2 separate regions of the Homo sapiens genome follow, and region 2 is linked to region 1. The links come from fine-mapping of genetic effects on gene expression. Tissue or cell type: fibroblasts. Region 1 holds a variant in brackets; the other region holds the start of a gene. All regions are shown on one strand. Distances are between the middles of the regions.

What was found. PIP is the estimated chance that this variant, and not a neighbour inherited with it, causes the effect.
Region 2: LYG1 starts here. The variant in region 1 is fine-mapped to the expression of LYG1 in fibroblasts (GTEx, PIP 0.98).

What each region holds. Positions count from the first base shown.
Region 1 is chr2:99,246,025-99,256,153 of GRCh38, reverse strand. It overlaps LYG2 (lysozyme g2), which reads left to right and starts at 488. Exons shown (of 7, transcript NM_175735.4): 1 at 488-551; 2 at 1,017-1,134; 3 at 1,869-1,936; 4 at 9,334-9,474. The coding sequence starts at 1,894. The variant A/G (reference allele first, on the strand shown) is at 5,626.
Region 2 is chr2:99,296,396-99,306,524 of GRCh38, reverse strand. It overlaps LYG1 (lysozyme g1), which reads left to right and starts at 5,328. Exons shown (of 7, transcript NM_174898.3): 1 at 5,328-5,475; 2 at 7,976-8,066. All of the region lies in intron 1 of LOC107985923 (a long non-coding RNA gene), which reads right to left. It also overlaps a transcript of TXNDC9 not described here.

The DNA.
Region 1 (10,129 bases):
TGCCAGGGAGCTGGGAAGTTGCCTGTGGTTTTGTCTTCCTGTTCCCTGTACAGCTGCCTTCCACCTTTCTTCACTCAGTGGATGTGGGGGAGGACTGTGTGCAGTCTGAGAAACTGGACACGCTTGTGGAAGGACCCAGACCAGACTTCTTCCTCCCCTCAGCGCAATGTGCTTTGCCTGTTTCAAGAACGTCCCTTCCATTTCCTGTTCCTGGGGCTGCACAATATGCTTCCTCTCTTCCTTTGGACATAAGCCTGAAGAAAGATACTCTCTTCTTGAAGAAGTTTTCATCCCTGGCTATAATCTTTTTTCCCATATCCTTAGCAAGTATGGGCAAATGAGCACTCACGTTGCTACTCCCTGGTTTTGCATTGATCTCCTAGAGCAGGTGGCCACACTTGCACCTTTTTCTCAGAAGTGGGATTGGAGTAAGGAGCCAAGTTCACCTATCATGATCATGTGACATAGTGGTTTGAGATCATGTGACATACTGGTACGGGGATCATATGACATTGGAATGGGAACAAAAAGCAGGAGACCCAATATTTCAGGTAAATAACCAATCCAAGAATAAAAATTGCTAGTATTTCCTGTTATCCTTTTAAAGTGAATTATCTGTTTCTTATTCGCAAATTTAGAAGCTGTTTGGCACAATTTTAGATATCTAGAAACAATCTATCAAAATATGCCTCCTGAGCAACTTGGGGGTTCATTAGGTTAATTAATTAATAGTGGTTAATAAGCCCTTTGAAATCCTCTTATTAATTGGGTCACCTAAGTCCTAAGTACTATTATAACCAGGCCTAATGAGGTCAATGGTTTAAAGAGAGGGTTTTAAACCATATATAAAGCTCCTCTAATGATCATTGGTACAGGACGAAGGTAAGAAAAGCCAGGTGAGTCTTCATGCTGGTGTTTAAAAGTTTCCTCCACAGCAGTAGAGCCACGCTGATGTCTACTCTGTTGAAGCCAGGTGCGCAGTGATCTACTGACTAATGGATTCTCCAATTGTTAAGCCTATGTTACAGGACAAAGGCCGTCGCTTTGTAAAAGCTTGAAGTGCAGTTTGCTGCTGAGTACAGAAGACCTTTGCAAACAGAGAGGGGAGATTTTCTCTGTAAGGTTGCAAACAAGGTTAGTGCTGGCCTTCTTATGTCTTGTAAAACTTATAAGCTACCATTTGAATGAAACCAAGAATAGAGTTGATTGAGGAAGAAATGGAGCAGAGGAAACCTCTTCTAAGTCACGTTCTCATGCTCCTGTTGGTATTTTGTTTTATTTTGTTTTCCCTACGGAGACCCTGGTATAAGAATGGAAACACCCAGGCATGGTGGCACGCATATGTCGCCCCAGCTACTCAGGAGGCTGAGGTGGGAGGATCGCTTGAGCCCAGGAGTTTGAGGCCATAGTGAGCTATGATTATGCCACTGCACTCCAGCCTGGGTGACAGAGCAAGATCCCATTTCTAAATAAATGAATGAAAGACCAAAACTGATCCTTGAAGCCAGGGGTAGGGTGAATAACTAGAATGAAAAGATCAGTATTTTTTTTTTTAAAAAGAAAGGGAACAAAATTGTGGTGTTACCAAGCTTAGAGGTGGGATGGGAGTGTATATTTAGTTACATATGTAAGATACGCATGACTCATGTCAATATGAAATTGGATTGAAGTGAGATTAGGAGTTTATGCTTAAGAAAGAGAGTGTGCCAACAAACTATGTACTGAGCCTGTGAGAATACTATCTTGAAACAGGGAAATGAGTAGTGAATTGGAAATAACTCTAAACTTTTTAAAATATCAAAGCAAATTTTTCTTTAGGAAATTTTCAGGTTTTAAAATTAACCAGTTTCTATTTCAAATCAGAGCAGGTCCTGGAAGATAAGATTCCCCGCCATGTTATCCTCCGTGGTGTTTTGGGGACTAATTGCCCTCATTGGTAAGTCACTGGCTGAGATTTAGCATTGTTCACAGGGTGTCCACAAAAACCTCCAGCACAATCATGAATCAGAAAGAGCAATGATTACCTGTAATGGAAGAGTGGGCTCTCATTCTGACCAGCTTGGCCATTAATCAACTATTATTTCTATAATTAACAGTGTGTTCTGCTTGCTAAGCAGGTGAAAAACAGGATCTATGGGAATTTCAAATAATCTAATATTTATTGATCTGCTTACTTCCTGTCTGACAATGCACCTATCAGGCTGGATACCTTACCGAGAGGTATATGGAACAGTGCCTTGGAAGCAAAACACATGAAGAGACAATTATCAATGCCAAGCAGTGGATGAGAGTTCAATGTGTATAGGTGGGAAAAAAGCACTAGTCTGGGAAAGGTTTGGGAGGAAGAGCTCACATCCAACTAGAATGCTCAGATGTGAAAGGCTTTTGGGGGGGACATGTCAATTGAAGGATGCTTGGTGATTTAATAAGAAAAAGGAAGAGCCTGCTGGATGGGAAGAAAGATTTCAGTAAAAAAGCAGAGGCAGAAATGAATGAAAAGTCTTTGGGTCAGTGTGGTCTGGACAGACGAGGGGGTTTCTGGGGGGAAGGCTGGAAAGATAGGTTGGTAAGTTGGTAAGGGATCTTGAATAAGAGAATGTGAAAACTCTGACCTAAGCAAAATGAAAAGCCATTATGAGCAATGTTCAAGTTGTCTTTAATTATAGAATGGTGACTGAAAGGAAAGTGTTTCTAAAATGTTTAATTCTAAATTTGGAAAAACAAGGCTACCCGAAAGTAATTTCCAGTTACTTATGGTCAAAACAGGGCAACATAGTTTTAAATTTTTACTCTTTTTAGATTGCCAGGTGAGAGCAGAGTTAAATAGCCAGTAGATTAATTATGAGCTACCATATTAGCTGTGTATAGCTGAAAGGTGACTCTTAATTTAAAAAGGGCTTGTGTGTTTATAAGGCCTACACAGGCAGCGTAGGGTCCATGGTCATATTCCAGTTCCCTTAAAGCAGTGGTTCATAAACATGTGTAAGAGTCAACTGGGAATGCTGGGTAAAAGGCAGCTTCTTTCGCCTTATACTGCAAGATTTTGGTGCAGTAGATCTGGTGTGAAAAGCCCAGTGATAAGCCTTTTTTTTTTTTTTTTTTTTTGAGACAGAGTCTTGCTCTGTCGCCCAGGCTGGAGAGTGCAGTGGTGCGATCTCAGCTCACTGCAAGCTCTGCCTCCTGGGTTCATACCATTCTTCTGCCTCAGCCTCCCAAGTAGCTGGGACTACAGGCGCCCACCATCATGCCCAGCTAATTTTTTTGTATTTTTAGTAGAGACAGGGTTTCACTGTGTTACCCAGGATGGTCTTGATCTCCTGACCTCGTGATCCGTCCGCCTTGGCCTCCCAAAGTGCTGGGATTATAGGTGTGAGCCACCACGCCCGGCCCAGTGATAAGCATTTTTAATAAGCTTCCTGGGTAACTTTGATGCCTGTGGTCTGTGGGCCACACAGTGAGCCTGGCAAAGACTGCCTCCCAGTGAAAGGATACTGAACCTGTCAATATAAGGACACTTGATCCAGATAATTTAAACAATCCCTTTCTGTCTCATTCCTTCATCCATCCAACTATCCATTCTTCCATTCAGCAAATGTTTATTAAATGTCTACTTTGTGCCAAGCATTGTTCCAGGTGCTGAGGAGGATATAGCAGAGAAAAACATCTAGTATCTGACCTAATGAAATTTATCTTCTAGTGAGAGGAACGAACAGTAAGAGAGTGAGAGGAAAAAGGGAAGAGAGAGGGAAAGAGTGAGAGGAAGGGAGGGAGATAAAAACATTTCACCTGTAAAAATTTTTGGGCTGGGCACGGTGGCTCACACCTGTAATCCCTGCACTTTGGGAGGCCGAGGCAGGCGGATCAAGAGGTCAGGAGATTGAGACCATCCTGGCTAACACAGTGATACACCATCTCTACTAAAAATACAAAAAATTAGCCAGGTGTGGTGGCAGGCACCTGTAGTCCCAGCTACTTGGGAGGCTGAGGCAGGAGAATGGCATGAACTTGGGAGGCGGAGCTTGCAGTGAGATAAAAACATTTCACCTGTAAAAATTTTTGGGCTGGGCACGGTGGCTCACACCTGTAATCCCTGCACTTTGGGAGGCCGAGGCAGGCGGATCAAGAGGTCAGGAGATTGAGACCATCCTGGCTAACACAGTGATACACCATCTCTACTAAAAATACAAAAAATTAGCCAGGTGTGGTGGCAGGCACCTGTAGTCCCAGCTACTTGGGAGGCTGAGGCAGGAGAATGGCCACTGCACTCCAGCCTGGGCGACAGAGTGAGACTCCATCTGGAAAAAAAAATTTTTTTTTTTAATGTGTCTCTAACATATAAGGACCAGCTCTGGCACAAAAAGATGTTCCTGGTTCATCTTGAACATTTCCTGCCCCAGGCAGGCAATCAGCCATTATTCTGAGGAGCGCTGGTTCCACTTAGCAGGAAATGGTATTTAGAGACCACAGTGTGGGAAGTAAAAGTGCTCCATTGCTATGGAGCTGTCGTTTATTTCAGGTGTTTTCAGTGGCAGGAACTAGAAAATATATATTTTTAAAAGGAAAACAACTATGCATTCAGATATTTCACATTTATATTTAAGAATGCAAGCATTTTACATCAGTTTTATATTTGTACCTCTGCTATCTTACACTAAAAATCCTAGTTCTAATGACATTAGCATTATTACTTATTTACATACAATAGTGTCAAAATAAGTATGACAGTATTACCAACCAACAATGAGACAGTAAATATAATTTAAGATTTTCTTGTGATTATTTATGTTCACAGGATGGATTCCTATGTAGTGGTATAGACTTATATGGATATATTTTAAAGTCACTTAAGATAATTCTCCTCTATGTGTTTATTAATCTTTCAATTTGTTATAGAGTTATGTTCATTTGTTCTTCTTTTTTATGATTCCATTTTTCCCCATTTGATTTAATTTTAAAATTTATGATAACATTTACATGGTTCCAAAATAAAAACTTTAAAAAAGATAGTTAGTCTATCCCCTATCCCTGTTCCCTTTACCTTCCTCTTACTCTCTCCATAACTAACAATTTTTATCAGTTTTTCATTCATCCTTGTATTGTTTCTTTTGAAAATATGAGCAAATCACACAAAATATACGATTGTATTTTCTTACCTTTCTTACACAAAGAGTACAATTCTATAAATACTATTTTGTCCCTGGAGAGAATTTTACAGGAGTATATACAGGTCTTATTCTTTCCTTTTGCAGCTGCATAGTGCTCCACTGTGGACGTAGCATCACTTACTCAACCAGTCCCTAAATTAATGACATTTGTGTTGTTTGCAGTCCTTTGCTCTTATCAACAGTGCTGGAATGAACAGCCTATCACAAAACTGTGTTCCACAGCAATGTGTGTGACAGCCTATTTCCTCACAACCTCTCCCACAGAGGGTATTGCCAAACCTTTGGGCTCTTGCCAACTAAAGAGTTGGAAAATGCAGCCAGGCGTGGTGGCTCACGCCTGTAATCCCAGCACTTTGGGAGGCCAAGGTGGGCGGATCACAAGGTCAGCAGATCGAGACCATCCTGGCTAACATGCTGAAACCCCGCCTCTACTAAAAATACAAAAAATTAGCCGGGTGTG[A/G]TGGCAGGCGCCTGTAGTCCCAGCTGCTGGGGAGGCTGAGGCAGGAGAATGGCATGAACCCAGGAGGCGGAGCTTGCAGTGAGCCATGATCGCACCACTGTACTGCAGCCTGGGCGACAGAGCAAGACTCTGTCTCAAAAAAAAAAAAAAAAAAAGAGTTGGAAAATGCTGTTATAATGATGTTTTAATGTGGCCTTTCTCTTCTTTTGAGTGTGGTTTAACGTCTTTTATATGTTTAAGGACTATTTTCTTTTTTTGTCTATAAACTCGCTATATATTCTGCTGATAAGGTGATATTTGGACAGAGACCTGAAGGCATGATCATGTAGATACCAGGAGGAATAGCATTCTAGGCAAAAGGGACCACAAACATACAGGCTTTGAGGCAGAAACCTGCCTGGCATGTTGAAGGATAAGCACAAAGAAGAATGTGGCTGGAGGAGAGTGAACAAAGGGAAAGAGAAGTAGGAACAGGAGCAGAGGGCCACATCTAGTAGGTCTTGGAGGCTGCAGGATGGACTTGGCTATTCCCCTAAAGGAGGAGAAAGCCACTGGAAGGTTAAGAGAGAAGACTGATAGCAGCCCATGCATATTCCCACAGGGCCACTCCGTCTACTAAGTAGAGGATGGGCTGCAAGAGTGAATCAGGGAGGTCAGTTAGAAGGCTGTTAGGAGAGTCCAGATGAGCAATGATGCTGGCTGGGACTATGGCAGAAGCAGAGGTGGGAGAAGTGGTTAGATTCTTTTTTTTTTTTTTTTTTTTTTTTGAGACAGAGTTTCGCTCTTTTTGCCCAGGCTGGAGTGCAATGGCGCGATCTCGGCTCACTGCATCCTCCTCCTCCTGGGTTCAAGCGATTCTTCTGCCTCAGCCTCCCGAGTAGCTGGGATTACAGGCATGCACCACCATGCCTGGCTAATTTTGTATTTTTAGTAGAGATGGGTTTCTCCGTGTTGGTCAGACTGGTCTTGAACTCCCGACCTCAGGTGATCCGCCTGCCTTGGCCTCCCAAAGTGCTGGGATTACAGGTGTGAGCCACCACGCCCAACCAGATTCTATTTTTTTTACATCAAACATTTTAACAAAATCCTTTTTTTTTTTTTTGAGATTTGAGACAGGGTCTTGTTCTGTTGCCCAGGCTGGAGTGCAGTGGCACCATCAAAGCTCACTGCAGCCTCGACCTCCCGGGTTCAATCAATCTTCCTGTCTCAGTCTCCCATGCAACTGGGACTACAGGCATGTGCCACTACACCAGGCTAATTTTTGTATTTTTTGTAGAAATGAGTTTTGCCATGTTGCATAGGCTGGTCTCAAACTCCTACGCTCAAGCAATCGTCCTGCCTCAGCCTCTCAAAGTGCTGGGATTCTAGGCATAAGCCACAACATCCAGCCCTAAGTACTGTCTTATAACAAATATTTGGACTCTTAAGGTACAAGTTAACAGTCCTTGAAACCGTTAGAACAAACTTTTCAACATTACAGAAAATAACTTTGTATCTCCTTTAGCAAAAGCTCTGCCTCTCCTGTAACAGGTAGACTTGGACAGAAATTCACTTTTTAATGACAGAACAAAAAGACAAGAATAGATTTGACTTAAATTATTTTGGCAAATTCAATTTTTACTTCTAATTTTATTAAATATACATAGGAACTCAACTTCACAGTAAATGATATATAATAAGAATATATTTAAATTGTTATGGTGCCCTTCTTTCTTATCTTTCTAAACAAAGGCAAATTGGTTTTTTTTGAATTTTATTTATTTATTTTTATTTTATTTTATTTTATTTTATTATTATTATACTTTAAGTTTTAGGGTACATGTGCACAATGTGCAGGTTAGTTACATATGTATACATGTGCCATGCTGGTGTGCTGCACCCATTAACTCGTCATTTAGCATTAGGTATATCTCCTAATGCTATCCCTCCCCCCTCCCTCCACCCCACAACAGTCCCCAGAGTGTGATGTTCCCCTTCCTGTGTCCATGTGTTCTCATTGTTCAATTCCCACCTATGAGTGAGAACATGTGGTGTTTGGTTTTTTGTCCTTGGTGATAGTTTACTGAGAATGATGATTTCCAATTTCATCCATGTCCCTACAAAGGACATGAAGTCATCATTTTTTATGGCTGCATAGTATTCCATGGTGTATATGTGCCACATTTTCTTAATCCAGTCTATCATTGTTGGACATTTGGGTTGGTTCCAAGTTTTTGCTATTGTGAATAGTGCCGCAATAAACATACGTGTGCATGTGTCTTTATAGCAGCATGATTTATAGTCCTTTGGGTATATACCCAGTAATGGGATGGCAGGGTCAAATGGTATTTCTAGTTCTAGATCCCTGAGGAATCGCCACACTGACTTCCACAATGGTTGAACTAGTTTACAGTCCCACCAACAGTGTAAAAGTGTTCCTATTTCTCCACATCCTCTCCAGCACCTGTTGTTGCCTGACTTTTTAATGATTGCCATTCTAACTGGTGTGAGATGGTATCTCATTGTGGTTTTGATTTGCATTTTTCTGATAGCCAGTGATGGTGAGCATTTTTTCATGTGTTTTTTGGCTGCATAAATGTCTTCTTTTGAGAAGTGTCTGTTCATGTACTTCGCCCACTTTTTGATGGGGTTGTTTGTTTTTTTCTTGTAAATTTGTTTGAGTTCATTGTAGATTCTGGATATTAGCCCTTTGTCAGATGAGTAGGTTGCGAAAATTTTCTCCCATTTTGTAGGTTGCCTGTTCACTCTGATGGTAGTTTCTTTTGCTGTGCAGAAGCTCTTTAGTTTAATTAGACCCCATTTGTCAATTTTGGCTTAAGAAAGGCAAATTGTTAATCTAGATGTTCACATCTCCAGAGGCATTTGTGTCAGAAATGTTTTAAAATTCCTCTCAAAACAATAGACACTGGGGACTGTAAAAGGAAGGAGGGAGGGAGGAAGGTAGGGAGGCAAGGGTTGAAAACTACACATCAGGTACTGTGTTCACTATTTGGGTGAAGGATCAATAGAAGGCCAATCCTCAGCATCACACAATATGCCCACGTAACAAACCTGCACATGTACCCCCTGAATCTTAAAAAAAAAAAAAAAACTCTCAAGTTTCCTGCTTAAAAACCTGTCAGTTTTAATTCTGACATAGAGCATGGTATGACTACAGTGCCTGTAATCCCAGCACTTTGGGAGGCCAAGGAGAGAGGATCGCTTGAGCACAGGAGTTTGAGACTAGCTTGGGCAACATAGCAAAACCCCATCTCTACAAAAAGAGAAAATAAGCCAGTCCTGGTGATATGCACCTGTGGTTCCAGCTACTCAGGAGGCTGGGGTGGGAGGATAGTTTGAGCCCAGGTGTTGGTGCCTGCAGCGAGCTATGATCATGCCACTGCACTCCAGCCTGGACAACAGAGCAAGACCTTGTCTCTTAAAAAAAGGAAAAAAAAAGACTGCACATGTATTTAGGATCTATAAGAGATGAATTTCATAATATTTTGCATAGAGTTTTCAGATTACGTCCTGTGTTAATACAAAACAAAACAAAAGATCGGAGCAGAGTGGGCATGGGGAACTTCTGTCTGAGGAACAAATAATGGCAACAAGAGAGTTGGGGAGTTCTGTCTGTGGCCTTCTGCCTTTGGTTTAGTGATGTTTATTGCAGCAACCCAAGTAATATCTTCTCAGAGGATTCATGTGAGTTACACTTCTGCCTCCTAGGCACTTCCAGGGGCTCATACCCCTTCAGTCACTCAATGAAGCCTCACCTACATCCACGCCTGTACCACGGCTGCTATGGGGACATCATGACCATGAAGACCTCTGGGGCCACTTGTGATGCAAACAGTGTGATGAACTGCGGTAAGTGAAAAGCAGAGCAAATGACTGGCTTCCCCCTTTCATCGTTTTCAGATTCTTTCTTAGGAAGTCACTTAATTTTGAAAAGGTATAATCATCATTATGACAATAGTATCAAAATTAAAAATGAGCAAAAACCACAATCCTGACCAATCTAACAACCAGCTTCTTTTCATTTTCCACCCCCATTCTTTCCAAACTTTGTCCAGCTGTGTTTATTTCCATGTATTGAAACTACTGCTTGAATAAATATTAGACTCTGGCTTTGTTTTTTGGGTGGTGCTGCTGTGTTTGCTTCATGTTACACATGACCATTTGAAGCAATACTGTTCCAAAGTCGTCTTCATCACGTTATCCTGGTTTTAGAGTGTCGGAGCTGGCAGCAACCACAAGGTCACATCAGACCCCAACCCCTCAAATTTACAAATCAGAGCCCAAAGACTCAGCAAGGAGGGGAATACTTCCCAATAGAACAGAACCAACTAGTGGCGGAGCCAGGCTAAAACATGCATTGGCTAACTCCTAGTACAACAGGCTTCCCAGTGCACTAGTGTGGCAGAATTTTTTTTGTGTGTATGACAGAGTCTTGCTTTGTCACCCAGGCTGGAGTGCGATGGCATGATCTCGGCTCACTACAATCTCCACCTCCCAGGTTCAA
Region 2 (10,129 bases), 50 kb before region 1:
TCACCACACCCTGTGCCCCAGCTCAACTAAGCAGCTTGATTTTCCCCAAACACAGCGCCATTCTTTGCATTAGGCCTTCCTACAGGCTGTTTGCTTTTTATCTAACCCCTCAGGGACAGGGGCTGTGTCTCAGAAACTTGTGCTATGAGCCACCATGTCCCTGGCTTGTCCTTTCAGACCTCCTGGATCCTCACTTTTTCAAGAAAACGTTCACACTTGTCTCAAAGTCTTATTCTTGACTCTGTCATGCTGAGTGGGTTCAATGTCCATTTAGATGGCTGGATTCAATTCTCTGGTCTCTCCTTTTTTGTGTGTTTTTTACTTATAAGAAATCATGAGGCAGGGTGTGGTGGCTCATGCCTGTAATCCCAGCACTTTGGGAGGCTGAGGCCGGCGGATCATGAGGTCAGTAGATCGAGACCATCCTGGCTAACACGGTGAAACCCCGCCTCTACTAGAAATACAAAAAATTAGCCGGGCATGGTGGCAGGCTACTGTAGTCCCAGCTACTCGGGAGGCTGAGGCAGGAGAATGGTGTGAACCCAGGAGGCGGAGGTTGCAGTGAGCTGAGATCACGCTCACTCCATCTGGGTGACAGAGCGAGACTCCGTCTCAAAATAAAAAGATATTATATATTTTGTAAAAGTTTTATTTTTAATTTATACATAAGAATTGCATAGATTTATGGGATAAGTTGTGTAATGATCAAATCAGGGTATTTAGCATATCCATCACCTCAAATTGATGAGAATACTAAATAGCTTCCCTTTTAGATATTTTGTAGTATACACTACAATATTGTTAAATATAGTCACTGCAGTGTGCAATAGGACACCAGAACTTACTCCTCCTATCTAGCTGTAATTTTGCATGCAACCAATCTCTCCCCATTCCTCCCCAGCCTCTAGTAGCCACTATTCTGCTCTTTACTTCTATGAGATCGCCTTTTTTTTTTCTTGAGATGGAGTCTTGCTCTGTTTCCCAGTGCAGTGGCGGGATCTTGGCTTACTGCAACCTCCACCTTCCAGGTTCAAGCAATTCTCCTGCCTCAGCCTCCTGAGTAGCTGGGATTACAGGTGCCCACCACCATGTCCGGCTAATTTTTGTACTTTTAGTAAAGACGGGGTTTTACCATGTTGGCCAGGCTGGTCTCGAACTCCCGACTCAGGTAATCTGCCTGCCTCGGCCTCCCAAAGTGCTGGGATTACAGGCGTGAGCCACCACACCTGGCCATTACACATGATCAACTTTTTTAGATTTCACAAATGGGTGATTTTGTCTTTCTGTGCCTTATTTCACTTAATGTCCTTTAGGTTGATCGTGTTGCTGCAAATGACAGGATTTCATGCTTTTTAATGACAAAATATTATTCCATTATGTGTATATACTGCATTTTCTTTATCCACTCATGTGTTGATGGACACTTAGGATGATTCTGTGTCTTGGCTATTACAAATAATGCTGCAGTCAACATGGGAGTGCATATTTCCCTTTGACATATCCATTTTCTTTGGATACATACCCAGCAGTGAGATTTCTGGGTCATATGCCACTTCTACTTTTAATTTTTTGAGGCATCTCCATACTGTTTTCCATAATGGCTAGATTCGTGTATATACCCACCTAGAGTGTATAAGGGCTCCATTTCTCCATATCTACACCACAATTTGTTATTTTTTCTCTTTAAAAACATTTTTAGATTGAGGTGTACACGTGTAGGTTTGTTACATGGGAGTTAAAACATAATCCTTTCTTTTTCTTTTTCATAAATTGAGACAGGATGTTGCTATGTTGCCCAGGCTGGTCTTGAAGTGCCTTGACCTCCTAAAGTGTTGGAACCACAGACGTGAGCCACTCCACCCAGCCTAAAACTTCATCTTCTTTGGTAAATGTGCTTTCATCTTCAGCATTCCAGACTTAGTACCATCCTCCCAGGCACTTATGTCCTCTTCTTTGCTCTCATCCTTGGCGTCTTGTCCCAAACTGAGTCCTGTCAATTCCACCTCTAAAATAGATCTGTAATATCTTTCCTTTTTCTCTTAGCCACTTTCATGCTGCTGATAAAGACATACCTGAGACTGAGCAATTTACAAAAGCAAGAGGTTTAACAGATTCACAGTTCCACTTGTCTGGGGAGGCCTCACAATCATGGCGGAAGGTGAAAGGCATGTCTCACATGGCAGCAGACAAGAGAAGAGTGAGAGCCAAGTGAAAGGGGTTTCCTCTTATAAAATCATCAGATCTCATGAGACTTATACACTACCATGAGAACAGTATGGGGGAAACTGCCTCCATGATTCAATTGTCTCCCACTGGGTCCCTCCCACAACACAAGGCAATTATGCAAGCTACAATTTGAGATGAGATTTTGGTGGGGACAGAGCCAAATCATATCATTCCACTTCTGACCCCTCCCAAATCTCATGTCCTCACATTTCAAAACCAATCTTGCCTTCCCAACAATCCCCTGAAGTCTCAGGTGCCCCCACCACGCCTGGCTAATTTTTTTGTATTTTTAGTGGAGACGGGGTTTCACTGTGTTAGCCAGGATGTTCTCTATCTCTTGAGCTCGTGATCCGCCTGCCTGGGCCTCCCAAAGTGCTGGGATTACAGGCGTGAGCCACCGTGCCCGGCCGGGGTTTCTTCTTATAAAATCATCAGATCTCTTGAGACTTATTCACTACCAGGAGAACAGTATGGGGGAAACTGCCTCCATGATTCAATTGTCTCCCACTGTGTCCCTCCCACAATGCAAGGGAATTATGGAAGCTACAATTTGAGATGAGATTTCAGTGGAGACACAGCCAAGCCATAGCCCCGTCACTCTAGTCCAACCATCATCTCTCTTCTGGTCTTCTGTGAAGTCTCCCGAGTCACTCTGGCTCACCTCCAATGCAATCAGCAGCCAGGGGACACTTTTTAAAACATAAATCTGACCGTCATGTGCCTGCGGAGTGTCCCGGAGGCTGGATGGAGAACGACCTCCTCAGCTTCTAGGATTCTTAGGGTGGGGACCCAGGTGCAGCAGGTGAGGAGGTGGAAGTCATCATAGAGAGGCAGGGTTTGTGAGAAGCCATTTCGTCTCTGTGGAGCCTTTGCCAGGCAACATGCTGGCTGCTGCCCAGGAGAACCTCCCAGGATGCTAACATGGCCCTCTGGGCTGATGACAGGGTGCTTTTGTAGGTGGAGCTGGGCATCCCCAGATTTCCCCACACTGTAATACCTTTTAATTGTTGGTATGTGCTAGAGCTTGGTGGAAAAAATAAAATGGATGAGTTCCATTTTGGGGGTCAGGATAGAGTTTTTAATGGGTGCATTAGTTCTCTTTTTACCCCAACTCTGCCAACAACCGAGAGGAACCCAGTGTTCTCACACTCCCCTCCCAGAGTTAAAGTTCAGGAACTCCCTGGGTGTCCAAATCTGGACCCTTGCTCACAGTGCCCTGCCTTGTGGTCTCACCATCTCAGTCACAAGTAGAGAAAAACAAAATCTTCTTTTTTTTTTTTTTCAGATGGAGGCTTGCTCTGTGGCCCAGGCTGGAGTACACTGGCATGATCTTGGCTTACTGCAACCTCTCCCTCTTGGTTCAACTGATTCTCCTGCCTCAGCCTCCCGAGTAGCTGGGATTACTGGTGTGTGCCACCATGCCTGGATAATTTTTGTATTTTTAGTAGAGATGGGGTTTCGCCATGTTGGCCAGGCTGGTCCGAACTCCTGACCTCAAGTGATCCACCTGCCTCGGCCTCCCAAAGCGCTGGGATTACAGACGTGAGGCTCTGTGCCCGGCTGAGAATAACAAAATCTTAACCCTCAATGTCTGCACTGGGGATGCAGAGTGAGTGACTTCCAAAAAGTCATAAATACGCTTTAAATCATTCATTTACTCATTCCGTAAACATGTACTGAATACCCCTTATGTGCCATAAGGAATACAGGAGAAAAAAGCCTTTGTTTTTGTTCTCAAGACAACAACAAACCAAAGTGCTGTAGGTGCTATGGTAGAAATATCCACATGTTGCTTGAAACACAAGGAACACACGTCTAACCTGGGGCCCAGCATTGGAAGCCCAGTCCAAATCTTGCTGGGTGAGGTTGTAGGAATTCTTCAGTCATTGACTGATTCAACAAAGATTTACTGAACACTTACAGTGTGCCAGGCTGTTATCTGGGCACTGAAGACTCAGTCTTATAAATGAAGTAGCCAGATTCACAGCTCTCACGGAGCTTGTGTTTGAGTTGTGGTATGGGGAGGGAGCTAAGGCAGGGGATGCAGAAGAAACAGACTGTATACCAGTCAGCCGATAAGCAAGCCATTGATTCCACGTGTTTTACTGAGTGTCTAATATGTATCATGCAGAGTGTTGCATGCTGGTATTATAAAGACGAATGAGACACAGCCCCTGTCCCTGAGGGTTTAGATAAAAAGGAAAGATCCTGTAGGAATGCCTAGTGCAAAGAATGGCGCTGTGTTTGGGGAAAATCAAGCTGTTCAGCTGAGCTGGGGCACAGGGTGTGGTGAGGGAGGGGGCTCCCTCTTTCAGTCATGAAATGCACCCTTTCCACAACTTGGGAAAGAATCCTTCCTGGAAACTTCATATGAACCCTCTCAAAGTACTTATTGATGTAGACATTTGGAACACGCTGTAGGTCCTGGGTGTCTGTAAAATAGCATCATCCAGCCGATCATCTCTCCCCACATTGCTGAACTGAGGACATGTGAACTGGTATCTCTCGGTGGTTCAGAACAGGGGCCAGCAACCTACGGCCCTAGGGCCACCACCTGTGTAGTAAAGAAAGTTTTTTTTTTGGAACACAGTCTTGGCCATTCATTTAAATATTATCTATGATCACTCTCATGCTACAATGTCAGAGGCATTATAAAGACCACGTAGCCCAAAAACCTGTCTGGGTCTGTAAGAAAAAGCTGCCAACCCCTGGTCTAGGCGCTCTGCTTACCTGAAATACAAACCAATAATGAGTTTCTGACACACCAAGTTCAATTCCCTCCCTCCCTTCCTTCCTTCCTTCTTCCTTTTCTTTCTTCCTTCCCTTCCTCCCTTCCTCTTCCCTTCCTCCCTTCCCCTTCTCACTCTCTCTCTCCTTCTCACTCTCTCTCTCTTTCTCTCTCTCTTCCTTCCTTGTTTTCTTACCTAACCCACATTCCCAGAAAATGATGTGAATAAAGACAAGTGTTGGACCTCAATGTGTCAAAGTTAAACTACAACTAGGATCTGCCTTCTGAGGTATGGCAAGAAACAAATTGGTTAATGTTTGCAAAATGCCAGGACATTCTCGAATAAAAGGCCCTATATAAGTTCGGAGTATTTATAATAATTATGATTATTATTATAATTTATGAGATGTCATAAATCTCTCCAAAATAGGATGAGATGAACACTTTTAACAAGAGAACAGGACTCTATATAAATCGCTGTGGGCTCACCACCTCTAAGGAGGAGCACTGACTGAAGACAGGTGAGTGTGAAGCAGAGGCATGGATCTTACACTCGGGCTTATTGAGGATGAAAATCCAGTGTATGGTGATCAGTTGGCAATGATTGTGTCTCTGCTGCATAAGAAATATTGGACTCAGGCGAAACTTAAGGACCTTGCAAAGAAAACCCAAGTTTGAAAAGATTTGTAGATGATAGAATAATTTTTCCTGTTCATTACAACACTCATCAAAATTTAGATATCTTTTAATGCAAGTATGTCATTACTTTTGGATTTGTGAGCATGTGCAAATCGAATAATGGGAGAAAAGAAATGTGTGTGCACTTAACTGTAGCTGTAATAGGGCCAAATGCGACGTCATATTTGTTAACTGAAAGCCAAAAGACTAAGGTGTTTGTATTTTGCCAGACGGTAAATCCCTTGCCTGCCCTCATGGGCAGTCTTGCCAATGCTACATTAACCCATAGACCATGAGTATTGGTTCTATAACAATCTTATTTTCTCTGCAAGCTGTGTAAGAACTAAGGCCAACATGTCTAACAGCCTCGGCTAACAGACTAAAAAGACAGATACGCCTCTAGAGTCCATAGACGGAACAGAGGGGCCAAGTCTCCCTGATTTGCTCTGTGCAGAAGGAAACGTTCACGGGGAAATCTCCAGCATAGGATGATCCTTCCTGGAGTTCTGAACTCTCAAAAACGCAAATGGGAAAAGCAGGCACAGAGGACGCACTGAGAGAAGGAACTCCCTTCCAGCTCACAGTGTCTCTATGCAGGGAAGATTTGCCTGCCCAGAGGGAAGAAAATGATCAAACTTTCAGAGGTCTTCTAGGCTGGTAATTATTGATTACAATCCAAATTCAGTGAATAGGTATTTTCACAGGCCATGTGAAGGTGCAGCTCTACGCAGCGTAACAGCTTAAAATGAGCCTTCCTGTTGCTGCCCTATATTTTTGCTCTAAAAAGTTGTATTTTTCTCAAAAAAAAAAAGATCTTAGTGGCAGAATAATTTTATATTATTTTATATTTGTGACTACATTGCTATTACTATTTTAATTTTAGGCCTGTTGGTGCATAGCAATCTGTGAGGCAATGGGCTGGAGTGTTGCTGTACGTGCATGTGTGTGTGTGTACGTGTGTGTGTGTACGTGTGTGTGTATATATGTAGGGAGGGAGAAGATTAGAATAGCAAGAAGAGGATGAGTACGACATGATGCTACTGGTAAGGCCTTTAAGAAATTTAAAAACTTAAACATTTTAAAAATGGAATAAAATAAATATTTAAAAATTTTAAAAAAACAAAAATTAAAAAAATTAAAAAGTTAAAATAATAAAAAATTAAAAATAATTTTAAAACAGGCCAGGTGTTGGTGGTTCCCAGCACTTTGGGAGGCTGAGGCAGGCAGATTGCTTGAGCCCTGGAGTTTGAGACCAGCCTGGCCAACATGGCGAAACCCCGTCTTTACTAAAAATACAAAAATTAGCTGGGCGTGGTGGCACAGGGCTGTAATCCCAGCTACTCAGGAGGCTGAGGCAGGAGAATCACCTGAGCTCAGGCAGGTCGAGGGTGCAGTGAGCCGAGATCACAGCACTTCACTCCAGCCTAGGTGACAGTCAGACTATGTTTTGAAAAAAAAAAAATTAAAACAATTTTAAAAATTAAAGAGTAATCTAATGAGACATTCTTACAGGCTTATAATGGTGAGATGATTCCACAATTTTGGGCCACTGCACTCCCACCTGGGAGACAGAGTGAGACCTTGTCTCGATTAAAAAAAAAAAAAAAAGAAAAAAAGAAAAAGAAAAAGAAAAAACAAAAAGAAAAGAAAAAGAAAAAAACCCAGGGGCTGGGCGCGGTGGCTCATGCCTATGATCCCAGCATTTTGGGAGGCTGAGGTGGGTGGATCACCTGAGGTCAGGAGTTCTCAACCAGCCTGGCCAACATGGTGAAACCCCATCTCTACTAAAAATACAAAAATTAGCTGGGCGTGGAGTGCCTGTAGTCTCAGCTACTCAGGAGGCTGAGGCAAGATAATCACTTGAATTCAAGAGGCGGAGGTTGCATTGAGCTGAGATCGCACCACTGCACTCCAGCCTGGGCGACAGAGTGAGACTTTGTCTCAAACAAAACAAAGCAAAACCCAACAAAACAAAAAGTAATTAAAATTAAAATTAAAAAATTAAAAAAAGAAAGGCCTGTTGGCACACAATGAGTAGGTAGACACAGAGACATGTTAGCAATAAACAAGGGTGACAACACAGCTTAGAGCAGGAGACCATGCCTAATGTGGATGCATACAGGAGTTCTCAGTTCTCTCAGGATTAGATGGGGACACCACAATGGGGCAGGGGCACCTTCATTGGGCACGTTGAGGTGTTAATACGTCACATTTCTGGGCTGGATGGAGGGCCCCAATGACCTGCAATGATACTGTTCAAGGTAAAGATTGAGAGCATTCATGGAAAAGTTTCTAAGGTGAGAAAACCATAAGACCAAAGATACCTGTTTCTACCTTTTCTAGAAAAATTGATGAACTGAAGAAGACATGGTCCATTATGCCTTACAAACTTACACAGTGCTTTGGGAATTCCAAAGTACTCAGTGGAGAGAGGGTGAGTAGAGGAAGATGTCCCCATCAAAGCCACCAGGAACATGAGGTAGCTCCTGAGGGATGCTCTGGTTGTCAGTTTCCAGTGTGCCTGGCAGGCCTGTTGCCCCAGCTTGTTGACACCCCCTTGCTGTTTGTTACTATTTTGCTCTCTGGGAAGGGAGAAGAGGGATGCTACCATAAACATTGTGCTTGACATCATGACCACTGTGCTGCCTTGGTCTGACATCTTCATAATGGTTTTAAGCAGGGAGCCACAGGGGAATTAACAAATGAGTCATAGGGAACTGACAGACACTCTTTGAGCACACCCGAGTGATGTCTCAACAATCTCTTCTAAACACAGAGTACTTTTCGTCACTTGTAAAGTTGGGCCATAGAGTTTGGGTTGCTTCAATATGCTGTATTTATGGACAAAATGACATTGTTCATCCATTTAAGAATTCCAAGCTAGGTGTGGTGGCTTGAGCCTGTAACCCTACCTACTCAGGAAGCTGAGGTGGAAGGATCACTTGAAGCCTGGAGTTCAAGACCAGCCTGGGCAACATAGTGAGACCCATTTCTACATAAAAACTAAAAAATTATCTGGGCATGGTGGCATACACCTCTAGCCCCAGCTACTTGGGAGGCTAAGGTGGGAGTATCACTTGAGCCCAGGAGGTCAAGGCTGCAGTGAGCCGTGATCGTGCCATTGCACTCCAGCCTGGGTGACAGAGTAAAACTCTGGCTCTAAGAAAAAAAAGAAAAATTCCATTGTCACTTCTTGCTCTTCCCTGATGAAATTGAAAAACTTTACCTTGATGACCTGGTCCCAGGAGCAACTAGAAAGTAATTCTGTGTTCCCATTAAGTGGCACATGTATTTACATAGACTCTTTCATTAAAGTGACTTCTCAACACAGATATTTAGTTCCAAGCATGGAAAATACGGTAGCTCTCCTGTTACAATAAAAGCTGAGTCCTTCCACTTGGGTTTCCAAGAGGAAGTATTTTTTCTTTCCTGGAAAAGCAGCAAAAAGAGTGAAATACCCTGGGTGGAGCATTTGAATGTGAGCAGTGCTTTTTCCTGAAGGGTCCTTCCATAAAGCCAGTGATGCACTTTCATGAGACCATGAGCTTTTCCTATACCCAAGCAGCTCTTTGTCCATTCTTTTCTCCTGGGATTGGTTGTCCTCTCTTGTTTACTGCTGGAGGCTCAGGATGCTGAATAAATGACTCCTGTTGGGTGATTAAATCTGAGCGTTCCTGCAGACCCAGCTAAGATTCCAGGTCCCTGAATCTTTTTGGTGTTGGGACTGACCATGACATTTTGTGCTCAACTAAGCAAAATCGGACAGACCATCTCAATGTTGTAGAGAGAATAACAAAAAGCATGACTGCAACTGAAGGGCATATGCCCCCTCAGTTTAAGAAGACAGAAATCGAATAACTTCCTTTTTCTTTTTTGAGACAGGCTCTTGCTCTGTTTCCCAGGATGGAGTGCAGTGGTGTGATCATAGCTCACTGCACCCTTGACCCTCTGGGCTCAAGCAGTCCTCCTGCCTCAGCCTCCCAAGTAGCTAGGACTACAGGTGTATGCCACCACACCTGGCTTCAAATGACTTCCTTAAAGCCTCTCCATCTTGAGATGTGATCTCTTCCTGGGTGTTTGAAAGAAACAACCCATAAGGTTAACCTCAAAACAAAAGAGATGAGAGAAGCATTATGAAAGTACCAAGTGCCTTGTTTATATGCACATTCCTACATGTAATGACAGTAATAATTCAAAATGCTAGGCTGCCAGGCTCTGCTGACTGGGGCAATGATGACATACACCCTGGAGTGGCAGGGCTTGGTGGGAGGCGCTTTGGAGGCAAAGGTCCAGAAACTCTACCATTCCCTGAGGTTAACAGCAAACTATCCTTGGTGGTATTTGTGTATTGGTTTGGTAGCCAGTAGGAGAACCAGGGCTGTTTGTACTCATGGAAGGTGATTAGGGGAATGGTTGGGATAAGAGAGAGAGAGAGCACATGAGCGGGTGCTCCATGTTGGCCACGTGTTCATTCTCCAGTCTTGTGAGCACCTCATG